Linked DNA regions of Homo sapiens. The protein of the gene in region 2 interacts with the protein of the main gene of each other region in a pairwise test. Each region holds a gene or a part of one and is shown on either strand. Other genes may lie near its edges.

Evidence for each region.
Region 1: the proteins of ZNF837 (region 2) and GPATCH2L interact in binary tests that used the Homo sapiens proteins (3 or more experiments, as listed by UniProt).
Region 3: the proteins of ZNF837 (region 2) and BAHD1 interact in binary tests that used the Homo sapiens proteins (3 or more experiments, as listed by UniProt).
Region 4: the proteins of ZNF837 (region 2) and BEGAIN interact in binary tests that used the Homo sapiens proteins (3 or more experiments, as listed by UniProt).

What each region holds. Positions count from the first base shown.
Region 1 is NC_000014.9:76,158,422-76,161,921, forward strand, and holds part of GPATCH2L (G patch domain-containing protein 2-like), read left to right. Parts: intron 1-3,500.
Region 2 is NC_000019.10:58,367,123-58,371,030, forward strand, and holds the end of ZNF837 (zinc finger protein 837), read right to left. Parts: intron 2,807-3,908; 5' UTR 2,697-2,806; exon of another isoform or gene 2,595-2,696; intron 2,240-2,594; 5' UTR 2,211-2,239; coding exon 615-2,210; 3' UTR 501-614; downstream 1-500. UniProt on the Homo sapiens protein: May be involved in transcriptional regulation.
Region 3 is NC_000015.10:40,443,953-40,447,452, forward strand, and holds part of BAHD1 (bromo adjacent homology domain-containing 1 protein), read left to right. Parts: exon of another isoform or gene 1-1,449; coding exon of another isoform or gene 1,450-1,591; intron 1,592-3,500.
Region 4 is NC_000014.9:100,563,418-100,566,917, reverse strand, and holds part of BEGAIN (brain-enriched guanylate kinase-associated protein), read left to right. Parts: intron 1-3,500. UniProt on the Homo sapiens protein: May sustain the structure of the postsynaptic density (PSD).

The DNA.
Region 1 (3,500 bases), on a different chromosome or scaffold from region 2:
TCCATCACCTCTCACTTTAACTCCCCCAAACTCTTTAATTATGAGTGTGCTTTGCTCCAGGTGTTTGTGACAGTGAAATTGCTAAATGAGGACCATTTTAACCAAAGATTGGGTGATCAATAACACTCTATAGCAGTAGCTTGTTGGATCAATAGCATTCATTATTTCATGGTTAAGGTAAGTAGCCTCCTTTGCAAGTGGAGGTCATTAATCAGGGTTTCCTGGAGCTGTGTAAAAGAATATGTATGGTAGGTGGGGGTGTTCTGTTTTCTATTCTGTAAGTAGGGATGCTGACCAAGAATATATTTACCATTGTTGCAGTTGGTAGTATTGCATGTGAGATTCTCGAATAGCTAGCATAGTGTGCTTATGTGGGTATATTCACAGTTCTGCTAGTATCCTTAGGGACAACTAAAACACACAGCTTGGGAGGTCGATATGATACTATTGTACTTGAAGGTCTATCTCTTGAAAGAAACATCCATCTCGTAAAAGAGTCTACCTCTTAAAAGAAATATTGGGATTGTTCTGTGTGGCTCCACAGGACAGAACTCAGGGATAGAGAGTACAGAGTGTTAAATGTTGCTGCGGTTAAAAAATAAGATTCTAAAAATTAGGACTCTGTAAAAATGAAGTGAATTGTTTCACCATGTAATGCGTAATAACTTCTAGATCAGGTGGGGGGATTCAAACATGGGCTTGATGACCGCTTACTTAGTTGCTGTGGAGTTGAGAAGGTTGAACTGAAGGCTTCTGAGATCCCTTGTAACACTGAGATGCTGCGATTCTTTTCAGTCACAGTCTACTTCCCACCATTGTAATGTCTTAACTGGTAAGTAGCCTCAACTGCCCACTTGAATTCTTGTGGTTCCCACTGGCAGTCATCTTCAAAGATTCATTCTTTCTCTCAACTTTTAGAATGATATTCCCTTTTCTCTTATTTCGCAGAATTTGTTCAAAGGCCTCTTGGTATTTGCCAGCAAGGGTGCATAGATTACCCTTGGTCCCCTTCTCTACTCCCGTGGACATAGGTAACTGCCATTCTCAGATCTACAGCTGGCCAAGAGAATATGCAGAGCCCCTAGCCCAGTGCTCCCAGTGCTACTGGGAGGCTTTTATCTCATACAGCTATGCTGGACTGAGATAGGATCATCTAACCCTCACTGCTTGATTCTGACCCCATTCCAGGAGTGTGCCGTAAATGAAGGTGTAGAAAACACTGCAGTCTCCAGAATGTACTGTCTCCAGAATGCACTTCTCTGCCCATGTCAACTGGAATCTTTGTTCTTGAAGACTATACTTTCTAGGACTCAATACCCTATAACTGCTTCCTACCCTCAAACACAAATACACACAGAAAACACTAAGCTTCCCTATCCAAGTGTATTCTGGGAGTTAGAGCCACCAAATAGAAACTGAAAGATACTCAGGCCGGGCGTGGTGGCTCACGCCTGTAATCCCGGCACTTTGGGAGGCCGAGGCAGGTGGATCACAAGGTTAGGAGATCGAGACCATCCTGGCTAACATGGTGAAACCCCGACTCTACTAAAAATACAAAAAAATTAGCCTTGGCGTGGTGGTGGACGCCTGTAGTCCCAGCTACTCAGGAGGCTGAGGCGGGAGAATGGTGTGAACCCGGGAGGCGGAGCTTGCAGTGAGCCGAGATCACACCACTGCACTTGAGTGCACTCGAGCCTGGGCGACAGAGCGAGACTCTGTCTCAAAAAAAAAGAAAAAAGAAACTGAATGATGCTCAATGGGAAGAGAAGGATAGAACCACACCCTGCCTCAACCTGTAGCTGCCTGATTTTCTGACTGAAACTGGCCTTGCATTTCTGAACTGCAAGGTGACTGTAGAGAAAGGATGCAGGGGCTTGCTATCTACCTTCAGGGCAGGCTCAGCACTTCTAACGTGGGCCTCCATTTCATTGTCAAGTGTGGTTCTATCAGCCTTGTAGTTTGAGGAAATCTTGGCAATAGGCCATCTGTATTCTCTATTGCTACAGAAAAAAATCGCCCTAAAACTTAGTAGCTCTAAACAAAGAGACCAAGTCTGTGAGTATGTAAATATTCCCAGGGAAGAAACCAAAGTGCTGGAGAAGAAGATACAACTGAAGAGAAAAAAGTGTTCTTGAGTTGAAAAATTAAGTCTTAAGATTAAAAGCGAAAATTAATGAGAAGAGACTTCTACTGAGACGGAGATTTTAAAAAAATATTTTATTTTAGTTTTTCTTTTTTTCACATATGCTCAAGACTAAGGAAAGAAAAATCTTAAAAGGGGTTGAAGACTGGGTGCAGTGGCTCAGACATTCTTAGATATGCAGGCCCCAGAATCCATGTTCTTTAAAAATTTACTGTGAGAAGACGTTCCATCTACCTGAAGATGAATCACTGTTAGCTCTAAGAAAAGGGAAGTCTTGAAAGGATGGGTGGACTTCTCTGAGGCACAGCCCCCAGCTCAATAGCAGAGTCCTGAGGAAAATTCTGTCTCTGCAAAGTATACCTGATTGTACTAGTCACAGTATCGAACCTGTCAACCTGCGGAGGTTGCTGCCTTTCATGGCACTGTCTGAATGAAACTGAAAAAGAAATTCTTTTATTATATATTCTCATTACTTATAGGAATAATTTCAGAACTGATGTGAGATATTTCTCTGAATAACCTCTCCCTCAGTCTTGTTTACTACTAGATTCAGAAGTCTGATTACAAAGGGTTACCAGTGTGCCACCTCTACCCTGGAAAAAAACTGGAAAACGATAGAACAAAAATACCTTTGGGCAGTAGATCTAAGAGTGACTTTTTTCCACGTTTTTCTAAATTCTGAAACAACTTTTATTTTTGTTAAGTGCATTATTATTTACTAAGAAAAGTTTTTTAGAATGACGATGTAAGCCATAAACTTTAAGATATCTATTAATTAGATGCAAAAAACACCTCTTATTAAGCTACTTGGTTAATAAGCTCTTAAATGGGGAGAAACAAACCCAGATGGTAATTTATTAATACCAACTTTTGATTGTAGGTGATAAAGTAATTCTGTACCTCCTTATTATAATTGGAACAGGTATAAGTTACTCTTTCAGTTCTCACTTTACAGTCTTCTGTGGTTAGGAGTATGAAAGAATTAGCAAGCTCTCAGATCAGAGGGTGTGCTGTGCTTTTTTCCCACCCCCTGCTCCCCCTGGCAATTTTGGGAATTCAGAGGGGTTTATTTTGTTGAAACTAGAAGCTACTGTTTAGGAAGAAGGGAATTAATTTCAACAAAGAGTTTATAAAGATTCTGTATTATCTGTTGCTGCAGAAAAAATTGCCCTAAAACTTACTAGCTCTAGGACGGGTGCGGTGGCTCATGCCTGTAATCCTAGCACTTTGGGAGGCCTAGGCGGGTGGATCACCTAAGATCAGGAGTTTGAGACCAGCCTGACCAATGTGGTGAAACCTTGTTTCTACTAAAAATATGAAAATTAGCCAGGCGTGGTAGCACAGGCCTGTAATCCTA
Region 2 (3,908 bases):
ATAAAGGCGACCCCGCTCGTCAGTCAGACCAGGGCAAGCTTGCCAGGGCTTCACACTTCACCAAAGGGAACCCTTTCTGCCGCGACTACCGAGCTGCCAGGGCCGGGACAGGCAGAAGCCTGCCCCGAGGTCTCACCTCTGGAGGGTTACGAGCTGTGCCAGGCCGGCTACGGTAGAGGGTGTGCAAATACCCCGCGGTCCCAAGGCTCCTGAAGCTGCCTAAGGGATATGAGAGACCCTAGGTTCGAATCCTGCCTCCATCGTCTTATGTTCGTGCCTCAGGAGAGTCACTTTGCCCCGTTTCCTCGCATACCAGAGAGCCCAGTAACACGCTCCGCGGCTCTGCGGAGAAAAAGACCCTAGAGATCGTGGACACAGCGTCTGGGCCGTATCAGCGCCCACTCGAGATTATTACTGCTTATGCCTGCAACCGGATGCTGTGCGCCCGGTTAGAAAAGGTCAAATAAAACTCGAGTTAGGGGAAGCCTGTGGACGCCATGTGTACAAAGTGAAGTTTAATCAAAGTTACAAACGTTGGTGGGTTTTCCGGGACAAAGGCCCCTCCTCGACGCAGGGTTCGCTTGGGCGACGCGTCGACTCTCGGCTCCCTGCAGTCAAGGCGCGGCGCGGCCCCCGTGCCGCTTCCGGTGCTCGTTGAGGTTGGAGCGTTGGCTGAAGGCGCGGCCGCAATCTCCGCACGCGTAGGGCCGCTCGCCCGTGTGCGTGCGCAGGTGGCGCACCAGGCTGCAGTTGCGCACGAAGGCCTTGCCGCAGTCGCGGCAGATGTAGGGCTTCTCGCCCGAGTGCAGGCGCTCGTGCTGGCGCAGCTCGGAGCAGCCGCGGAAGGTCTTTCCGCACTCGGAGCAGCCATAGGGCCGCTCGCCGGTGTGCGCGCGCTGGTGTTGCACCAGGCCCGAGCGGCCCTTGAAGGCCTTTTCGCACAGTGGGCACGCGTAGGGCTTGGCGCTGCTGTGAGTGCGCTGGTGCCGGCTCAGGTTCGAGCGCTGGTTGAAGGCCTTGCCGCACTCGGGGCACGCGTAGGGCTTCTCGCCGGTGTGCACGCGCCGGTGCTCCACGAGGTGCGAGAACAGCCCGAAGGCCTTGGCGCAGTCGGCGCACTCGTACGGCTTCTCCCCGGCTCCCGACCCCCGTCGGGGACTCCGCTCGCTGTAGTCCCCGCAGGGCGGGCACCCCAGCCGGAAGGCGCGCCGCGCCAGGACGGGGCCACGCCGGTGGCGCTCGGCCGAGTGCGTCTTCTGGTGGCGGTACAGGCCGGAGCAGCGCACGAAGGCCTTGCCGCACTCGGCGCACTCGTAGGGCCGCTCGCCCGTGTGGATGCGCTGGTGCTGCAGCAGGCTGGAGGTGCGCGTGAAGGCCTTGCCGCACTCGTCGCAAGCGTACAGTCGCTGGGCCGGGGGGTCGGGGACAATAGGGCGAGGTCGCGAGGTTTGGCCGCACTCAGGACACACTGGGGGACTCTTGCCCGCCTGCTGCTGCTGGTTGGGGCGGAAGCGCTTCCCGCACCGGGCACACGGACGGGGCTCCTCCGTCGCCTGCAGCCTCTCCTGGGGGATCCGCAGGGCCCTCCACGCAAAGGCCTCGCCGCACGCGCAAGCCCGGGGCTGCTCCACCAAGGGGTTCCTCCCGCGGGAGGTCGGCTTTGGGGTCCTCGGGCAGGTCGGAGCGCCAGTCCCTGGTTGGCACGGCCAACAGTCCGTGTGGACCTCACACAGTTGAGTCCGGGGGTGGTTCTGGATCCGCTCCGGACAGGGGTCACACACGGGTGGCGTCTCCCCAGCGGGCGCCCCGCGATGCCACGCCAGGCAGGAGTTCCTGCTGCAGTCCCCGCCACGCGCTGGGCTCCTACAGGGGCCCTCCCGGGCTTGCAGCCCCTCGGGGATAACCAGCTCAGGGTTCTGAGAAGAGGTGGGGCCGCACGGCTCCCGCACGAGGGGTCTGGTCCCGGCGCTGTGCCGGGTCCCCGGGCCGGGGCTCACCCCGAGGCTGCAGCCCCGGGAGCCCCCGCCTGGGGGAGTCGTCCTACCGCCCGCCGCTCCACGCAGGTCCCCCTTTTGAGTGGGGCGGCTCCCAGCTCGGTCCTCTTCGAGGGGCCTCGGCTCCTCGGGCCTCTTCTCCCGGGCCCCGGAGGCACCCTGGGCATCGGCCTTGGGGAGTCCTCCCTGCCCAGCCTTCTGGGCTGGAGCCTCCATCCTGGGGCGCAGAGTTCTGGTTGTAGGATCTGGAAGAGCAGAGAAGAAATGGAGGTTGGCGGTTCCCAGGAGGAGAGAAGTGGAGAACTGGGCCAACGAGCGACCACCCCACAGCTGGCACCTACTGGGCGGCCCCCAGCTCTCTGCAGATGCGAAAGGGTAAATGGAGTGACATAGGCAGCCCGTCCTGCCCCTCTTCAAATTGTCACCACCCAGACCCCAGAGAACAGCTTCCCAGGCTCTGCCTGCCCGCCATCACCGTTCCTCCCCAACACTAGCTCCTAAAACACTGTGCCCCTGGCTAAGGCCCTCCCTGGTCCCCCTTCCCCAAGCAACAGGGACTCCCCCGTTGCTCAGCTGCCAGCTCCCCAAAATCTCACTTACTCCTGCCCTCCGTTTCTCAGTGGCAAGCCGACACTCCGGGTCCTCCTGGCTCCATTCACTGCCATTGTCCATGTCTTCTGAGAGGTGTGAGGTGAGACTCACCTGACAGCTGAGAGCCTGGCCGGGAGATCCACGCTGCAGAGGCCAATGCTGGACTTCCCCTCCCCTCTTCAACCAGGTAACGGTGGTGCTCTCAAGGCTGGCAGCCTCATCTACAAAATGGGTATGATAACGGTAAGTATAACCAGCTGAGTAGGGAGACAGGCAGCCCAGATCATTCAAGCAAGTGTGAACATTAGCAACGCCTGGCGCCTGCTATTACTATTTTAAAATTACACTGTGGCTGTATTAGTTATCTATTGTTAAAGCTGCTTTAACAAACTGCCACCCCATAGTGGCTTGAGACAGTGCAAACTTGTTATCTCAGAGTTCTGGAGGTCGTAAGTCCTAAGTGAAGGTTTCAGTAGTGTGGGTTCCTTCCAGAAGCTCTTGGGGAGGACGTTTGCTGACCATTTCCAGCTTCTAGGTGCCACCTACTTTTCTTTCTTCCATCTTCAAGCCAGCAGTAAGACATGTTCATCTCTCTCTTTCTGGGTTTGTTGTCAAATCTCCTTATACTCCTTATAGGATTCTGACCCTTCTGCCTCTTGTGATCACACTAGGCCAACCACACATAATCCAGGAATCTCCCCATCTCAAGATCCAAAACTTCATCACACTCAGTTCTTTTGCCTTGTGAAGTAACATAGTCAGAGGTTCTAGGAAACAGGACGTGCAGATCTTTCAGGGGGCCATTATTCTGCTTACAACAGTGGACTTTGCTGAGATACACACACGTGCATATATAAATATTCATCTCCTAAGCAAGCAATTGAATAGCAAGTGAAAACAAAGGACGGCCGGGCACGGTAGCTCACGCCTGTAATCCCAGCACTTTGGGAGGCCGAGGCAGATGGATCACCTGAGGTCAGGAGTTTGAGACCAGCCTGACCAACATAGAGAAACCCCGTCTCTACTAAAAATACAAAATTAGCCAGGCATGGTGGTGCGTGCCTGTAATCCCAGCTACTCAGGAGGCTAAAGCAAGAGAATCACTTGAACCCGGGAGATGGAGGTTGCAGTTAGCCGAGATCGCACCATTGCACTCCAGCCTGGGCAACAAAAGTGAAACTCTTTCAAAAAAAGAAAAGGAAAAAAAGAAAAGAGAGAGAGAGGGAGGGAGGGGTGAAGGCCGGGGGGGGGGAGCCGGGCGCGGTGGCTCACGCCTGTAATCCCAGCACTTTGGGAGGCCTAGGTGGGCAGATCACGAGGTCA
Region 3 (3,500 bases), on a different chromosome or scaffold from region 2:
CTTGTCCTTAGTCTGGTTGTTGCTCAGACCACTCCAGGCCAACATAGTCATCCCCGCCTGAGCTCATGACTCTGGATTTTCTAACGTGGTATCCTCTTGAGTGGTTTTGTAGGTTGGAAATTTCTTAAGGACAGGAACAATATGAGTGTTAAACCTCTGTGTGTGTGTGTGTGTGTGTGAATATTCTGGTATTTCTTGTACAGTGCTGTGCACATCATTTTTGTTGAGTGAATAAATGTGGTTGGTTGCTGAGTTAGGCAGGAACAAGGGGGAGACCTTCCTTTCAGCTTCTCCAGAAATGCTCATATTGGAGTCCTTGGAGATTTCCAGCCCTTTCTGTCAAAGGCATATGGATAGGGCATGTTTGGGGTGCTGTAAATGGGAAATTTAACTGCTGTTTCTAATATTTCTGCTGGTGAAGAGTCCTATGGATTGCTTATGTGATACCATATAGACATTGGAAAAGGGCTGTAATCCTGTTTTCCTCCTACCTCACCGGACCACCATTCTTTCTACCCAGCTTTGCTGCTCTTATGCAGTTTTCCTTGTTGTTCATGCTAAATGAATCCATGTTTTATCTCTTCTCAAACCGGGTGCAAATGAGGGAGAAAACACAATTCTGAGCACAGAAAAGAAAAATACTCCTGGGTCTGGCCCATAGATGGGACTTTTGGGGCTGGTTTGGAAGAGGTGTTTATGGGGGCATCACCAACATAAGAGGCACAATCAGCCCCACATTGGACCCCTCATAAAGGAAAGCTACAATCCCTGCTCTCTCAGGCTTCTGTTTTGGTTCACCATCAACCCTGGACCATGGGGGAAACGGGAAAGAGGACTGGTGACTGGTTAGAGGCCAGATAGTGAAAAAATATATTCTGCATCCATCCCCTTTCCCCCAAACCTCCCTTTTGTGCCCCAGTTTGATGATTAATGGACCAGCATTTCCCTTCTACGCGGGAAGGCCACCCCTCACAGTTGCCATGGCAATGCAGACCGCTCCCCCGTCAATTAAAAAAAAAATCCCTACTACTTCTCTCCTCCTTCTACTGTAGCAGGAGAAAAGCTACCTCAGAATGCATCTCCTGGGCTCTCTTCTCAGCTCCTTTAGCTGTGTTTGCTGTGTGTCCTAGAACACAGTCCTTCCTCTCTTTCTGGGGATTGCCTGAGTTTCTTCACTCTGAGCAAATTGTGCCCCTTCTGGAGCCAGCAGCCCCTGGAACACTTATATCAAGAAACAGAGAAAATTTCTGTTTATTTATTCATCCCCGGTGCAAATTAAAAACTAGAGAGAGCTCCTTTTGGGTAAAAAAAAAAAAAAAAAAAACAACCCTTTCACACCTTCTCTGGTTAGAGGTATAAGTTGGGGCACATTTGACATCCAGAAAGGAAGTTTTAGTAAACCTGGAAGGAATTCAGCCTCCTAGCATACATACTTCAAATTGGAGTTCTATGGGGAATTCTCAAAATTATTTTCATTCCTCCTCACCTCTCTGTTCCAGCATCCAGGAGGACTTGTGTGTTTTCATTTTATCTGTTCTTATTCCTCTTGGCCTTGCTCCGGCAACATCTGGCCTCAGCACCCTGTCGCAAGGTGAGTCATTAAGGAGAATAAAAACCTTAAGGAAAAAAAGTCTCTGGAGTTGAGAAGTAGCCTGTGTTGAACTAAGGCTGCCAGGCGAAGCTGCCGAGTTTATGGAGCATTATACGAACAGCCCCGACATTAAAGGGCCTCCTTTTTATGAATGGGTTGTGAAGAATGTAAATAAAGCAGCATCTCTCAATGGGGAAGCATTTTACATAAGCAGTACTACCCCGACCCAAGTATTTATGGGAATTTGCTAGCACAGTCTGGCAAGGCTCACTTCCTTTGTGAACTTGCCATTGTGCTGGGGACTTTGGAGGGACAAGGAGAGTGTGCTTCGGTTCTGAGGGCAGCCCCAGCACTCCCACTCTGCAGGTTTCCTGGCGTTGACTTGATGGGCCAGCTCATGGCTGGAAATGCCTGTTAACCCTGAAGTGACAGAAAATACCATGCGCAGTCAAGAGCTCATGATAATTAGAGATAGAGGCTCCTGATCCTGGGGTCTGGAGATGGTGTAGCTCCTGACCCCTCAGGCTGCTTAGACCTCCACAGGACAGAGGACAGGGAGTTCTTGGATGATGAAATCTTGCCCGGTTTTATGGGAGGCACCTAAGTGGTGTAAAATGGGCTGGTTTGAATTTCAGCTCCTTTATGTTCCCCTGCCCACCTCCTGGTACTGCCACTAATGATCAGTAAAATGGCTAAAAAGGAGGAGGAGAAAGAGCACCAGCAGCAGTGAGGCTGCACGTGGTCTGCTCAGGGCCAGACGGCCTGACAAGCACCCTCACTGAACACCGGCCCAGCCCTGGGGTTCCAACAGGGGTGTTGGTGTCCTGCCCCAGGTGACTTGGTAAGCAGGCCCTGGAGTACAGTCACATCCAGGACTTTGTGTTGTGTCCCTGTGGGTGGGAGTGGGGTCATCAGATTTCATTTTTCCCAGTGGGAAACACCTGCAAGGATGGTTATTCACTTGACTCAGTGTCCCCCCAACACAAAAAAATAACATTGTCTTTTAAGATCCTCTGCAGGCCCAATCCACCAGGAGAAAAAAAGGGGTTTGTCTCTCAGCCTCGCTGATTTGAATTGGGAACTTATTTCTAAGCACTATGACCAAGTTAGCTGAATGAAAAAAAACAGGTGATTTCTTAGTCTTGTTACCAATGTCAGGCAGGAACTTGGGTCTCAATATTTTTTCTTGCATGTGTTCCTTTTCCAGTGGGTTTGGGGAAAAGAGGTGCTTTGACCTCCTGTCTTTGGGTAAGGAGGATGGGACCTGTCTTTCTGCCGTTCTCTTGACCCCAGGGATCTCACCTGGAGTGCTGTTGATGGCTCCTACTTTTATTCCATCTCCAATGCCTTTTGGGGACTCCTAGCCTCCATCAGTGCAGCTTTTTCAGCTTCCTGCGTGCAGTGGAGAGGGGCAGCCCACACAGACCCTTTTCCAACTCTGGTTACCTGTCCACAATGTTTAGGAATAATTGTTAATCACATTCTCATGTGGCCAGGTGGTTTAAAGGTGAATTACTGTTTTTTAGAGGACCTATGTAGAAATCGTGGGAAAGGTATTATTAGGGTGCCGCTTGATGCCAGGAGATCCTAACAAGTATGCCAGAAGGAGGGGTGAAGTCACGTTTCCACCATAGTCAGGGCCAGCAGGGCCTTCCTCAGTAGTGAGGGGTGTCTCCTGCTTTGTGCCTGGAGGGGTTTCCACATTGGCTAGAATGTAAAAAAGAATTATAAAAATGATTGAGGCCAGGTGCCGTGGCTCACACCTTTAATCCCAGCACTTTGGGAGGCTGAGGCGGGTGGATCACTTGAGGTCAGGAGTTCAAGACCACCCTGGCCAACATGCTGAAACCCCGTCTCTACTAAAAATACAAAAATGAGCCGGGTCTGGTAGCATACACCTGTAATTCCA
Region 4 (3,500 bases), on a different chromosome or scaffold from region 2:
GCTTGGAAACACCCAGGTGGGAGCCTGGGGGCAGGTGGGCTCACACAGAGACCCAGGGTGGACTCTCAGAGCAGGGCCATCTCCTGGGCCATGGAGCTGATGTGCAGCCCCCACTGTGGGTCCCACAGGGACAGGACCAACATGTCTTGTGCTGGGAGGAGGGGTCCAGTCTCTGAGGTGGTTCAATCTCAGACCCCAAATACCTGATACCCATCAGCCAGGCCCACCTTGTCGTGGCCAAGGTCCAGGTGGGGGCGGTGAGGCCCAAAGAGCGACAGCCCTGGCTGTGGTCACACAGATGACCTCAGGCCCAAACTCAGGCTCTGGCCCAGGCCAGGGCCCTTCCCTGGTGCCCCACATTGGCTGTCATTTCACCACCTGGGTTGTACCGCCTGTGGGGGGGAGGAAACACTGCTTAACTCAGCTGAGACTTGAGGAAAAACTTAGCATTCATGGGGTGCCCTGAGGCCAGCCTGGGGGTTCCCTGCGGTGGTTCTCTTTCTCTTTCCCTCCTTCCCTGTGCCCGGCCAAGGCTCTCCGGCACCTATTCCTGTGTGCCAGGCACTGAGGACAGAGGCATGACCCCGCCCGGCTGGGTGCACAGGTAGGCAGGTGTGCCAGGTGGGCGGATCTGCTGCCTGAGCTGCTGATGGCGTCAGCGTTGCTGTCCCAGGCGGGCTGAGGCTTCCCTGGGCTAAGCCATAAAGGCTGGAGGCAGTGGCCAGGGCCTGGGCTCCTGGGCTGCATCGGGCCATGTGGCCTTTCTGGAGTTGCCAGGGGTGGCGTGGGGCAAGGACTCCTAGAACTGGGGAGGGGTCCTGCCCTCCTCTCCCTCTCACCCAATTAGTGTTCTCAGAGTTGCCTGAAGGGCTTTTCCAGAATCTTCCCTTCTGGCCAGTGTCGGGGCTGCCCCAGTGGGTTTCTGTCCTGCATTTGGTGCCTGGGATTCAGAACCAAAAGCCCAGGGGAGTGGAAGGGAAGTTGGTCAGCATGGCTTCCTGCACAGAAGGGCACAGGGTTTGGGGTCCCACAGACCCAGTCACTGACAAAGTCCTGGCCCTGGTTGGGCCTCAGTTTTCTCATCTGTAAAGTGGGTGTCCTAACCACAACCAGGTTGCAGGGATGTTGGGTGCCGTGAGCCCCTGTGGTGGAAGCATCTCTCCTGGGACCTGGCCCAGAGCAGGCCCAGGTAGAGGGTCTCTGGGGAACCTCAGACCACACGGTGGTCACAGTGAAGGGGTCCTGAAGTGTCCACAGGGATGACCCTATGGTCGGTCCTGCCTCCTGGCCCCTGGACTGTGGAGTCTGCACATCACAGGCTGGGTCTGTGGGTCTGGATTGAGCTCTGAGAGTGCTGGTCCTGGCCCCCTCCTCTCCCACACCCCCCAGGGCCTGGAGCCAGGACTGACTTATGGGACAGTCCTGTAAATATTTGCTGAAGAGCAAAAGGACCATGTCACCTGGTGGCACTGTGGCCCTCAATGGCTCCCTTTGGTGGGCAGGTGTACATTGAGGGGTCTCTCTTCCCTGGTCCCTCCCACTGGCTGCCCCCCCATGCTGTCGCCCTGCTTCCGAGTTCCCCACAAGCTGCCACCTTCATGCCCCTGCCTTTGCCCACGCAGTCCCTGCTGTAGAGAATGCCCTTCCCTGCCTTCTTGTCCACATGACAAACTCTGTGTCTTCCCTGTCGCCTTTTCCCTGGGGTTTTCATGACGCTCTTGCCCCTCCCTCCCAAGTGGACTCCAGCCCCCTCTGGGTACCAGCTCTGTGAAAAGACCCGGTTGGCCCTCCAGTGCCGGGGACAGAGGCCCACAACAGATCCTCCTAGGCCAGCGGACAGAATACAGAAGGGGTTTGCCCACAATGCTCTGGGGTCCCAGGTTGTGAACCCTGGCCTGGGGTATTGGGAAGAGCTTCCGGGAAGCAGGGACACTTGAGCCAAGGCATGAAGAATGGGTAGGAGTTTCCAAGGACAGACAGGCCACCCTCCAAGAGGTGCAAAGGCCTGGGGGCTGCCCAGAGCAGATGTGTTTAGGGAAGACAGGTAAGGGGTGGGGAGTGGAGGTCAGTGGGGCTCCCACTGACATCTGGGGTGTCTTCTGTCTTCCCCAGGGCCCCAGATGGGCACCCCAGAGAACAGAGCCGGGGTCTGGCCCCTGGTGTTCTGACAGCCACAGTGCCTGGCAGAGGCTGGCGCACAGTAGGGCTCCCACAGGCCGGGGGGCCACATGGTAGATATGCAGCCACACCATTTGATGGCCTGGCCACCTTGGCTCTTGTCCTTTGACCCTTGCTCAGCCACACTCAGCTATCTTGTCTTCGACTGCTTGGAAAAACTATTCTTGTGACTCTCAAATATTTATAGATATTACCAAGTCCCGGCTGGCTCTCCGTGTGCTCAGAGCCTCTGTGCCTCTAATCCCTCAAATTAATCCCCTCCTCTCCCTCCAAACAGGGTCCCTCCTGCCTGCCTCCTGCAGCGTGCTGCTGGGCAGCCCCTTTTTCTATTTGAGCTTCGGTTCCCTCCTCTGTCAAACAGAGAAGTGGGTCAGTCGCCTCTCATGGCTCCTGGGGTGCCCAGAGCTACTCCTGTTTGGTGTCCACGTTTTCCCCCCAAAATAGAATTTTTCAAAGTCGTGAACTGTGATAGGCCTGCAGAGACATTAATAAATATCCGCACAGTTCAGTGGTTAAGTTTAGAACGACCACCTGGCGACCACCACCTGTGTCAAGGAGTTCAACATGGCCAACCCCCGAGATCCCCCGAGACCCTTCCCCACAGACAGCCCCATCCTGCTCCCGGCCAGCCCCTAAGATCCCCCGAGACCCTTCCCCACAGACAGCCCCATCCTACTCCAAGCAGTCACCGGGACACCGACCTTGTGCTCAGTGGTTCCTTGCTGTCCTCGTGGTTCTGCCACCTGAGAGGGCATCCCCAGCAGAGATGGTTGTATGTTGCCTGCTTTGGGACCTCATACCTGGATTCCTTCAGCCTGTGTTTTGGGGGTGGCTTTTTTTCACCAAAACTATTCTGTTTGTGAGGGTCCCTTGTGGTGGTAGGTGGAGCTACCAGTTGCTGTTGTCATGGTGGCTTCCCTGAAATCCGTTTGTTCCCTGGCAGACTGCCGGGCACTGTGCAGCCTGGGCCACCTTAGGAAACTCCTGTGCGGGTGTCTGGGGATGTGGGCTGCGATTCTGGGTGTGCACCCTCAGTGGAACCTCCGGGGCACAGGGTGCGCATAGGGTCAGCTCTGGAAGATCGGAACAGACTCTTGAAACCGCTTCTCCCCATCACTGTCCCTCCAGCGTTGTTGGGGTGGGCTGCCCTGGTTTGCTGCCCGCTGGGTTTCCTCACCGGCGAAGGCCGTGCGCATTTTCTACCAAGGTGTTTTTCCCATTGATTTGTGGGAGCTCTTCACACTGTCAGTTACACATGCAGCAGCCACACCTCCTGGGGGACGCCGCGTCTCGCTGTTCACACGGTCCTTCTATGAACAAAA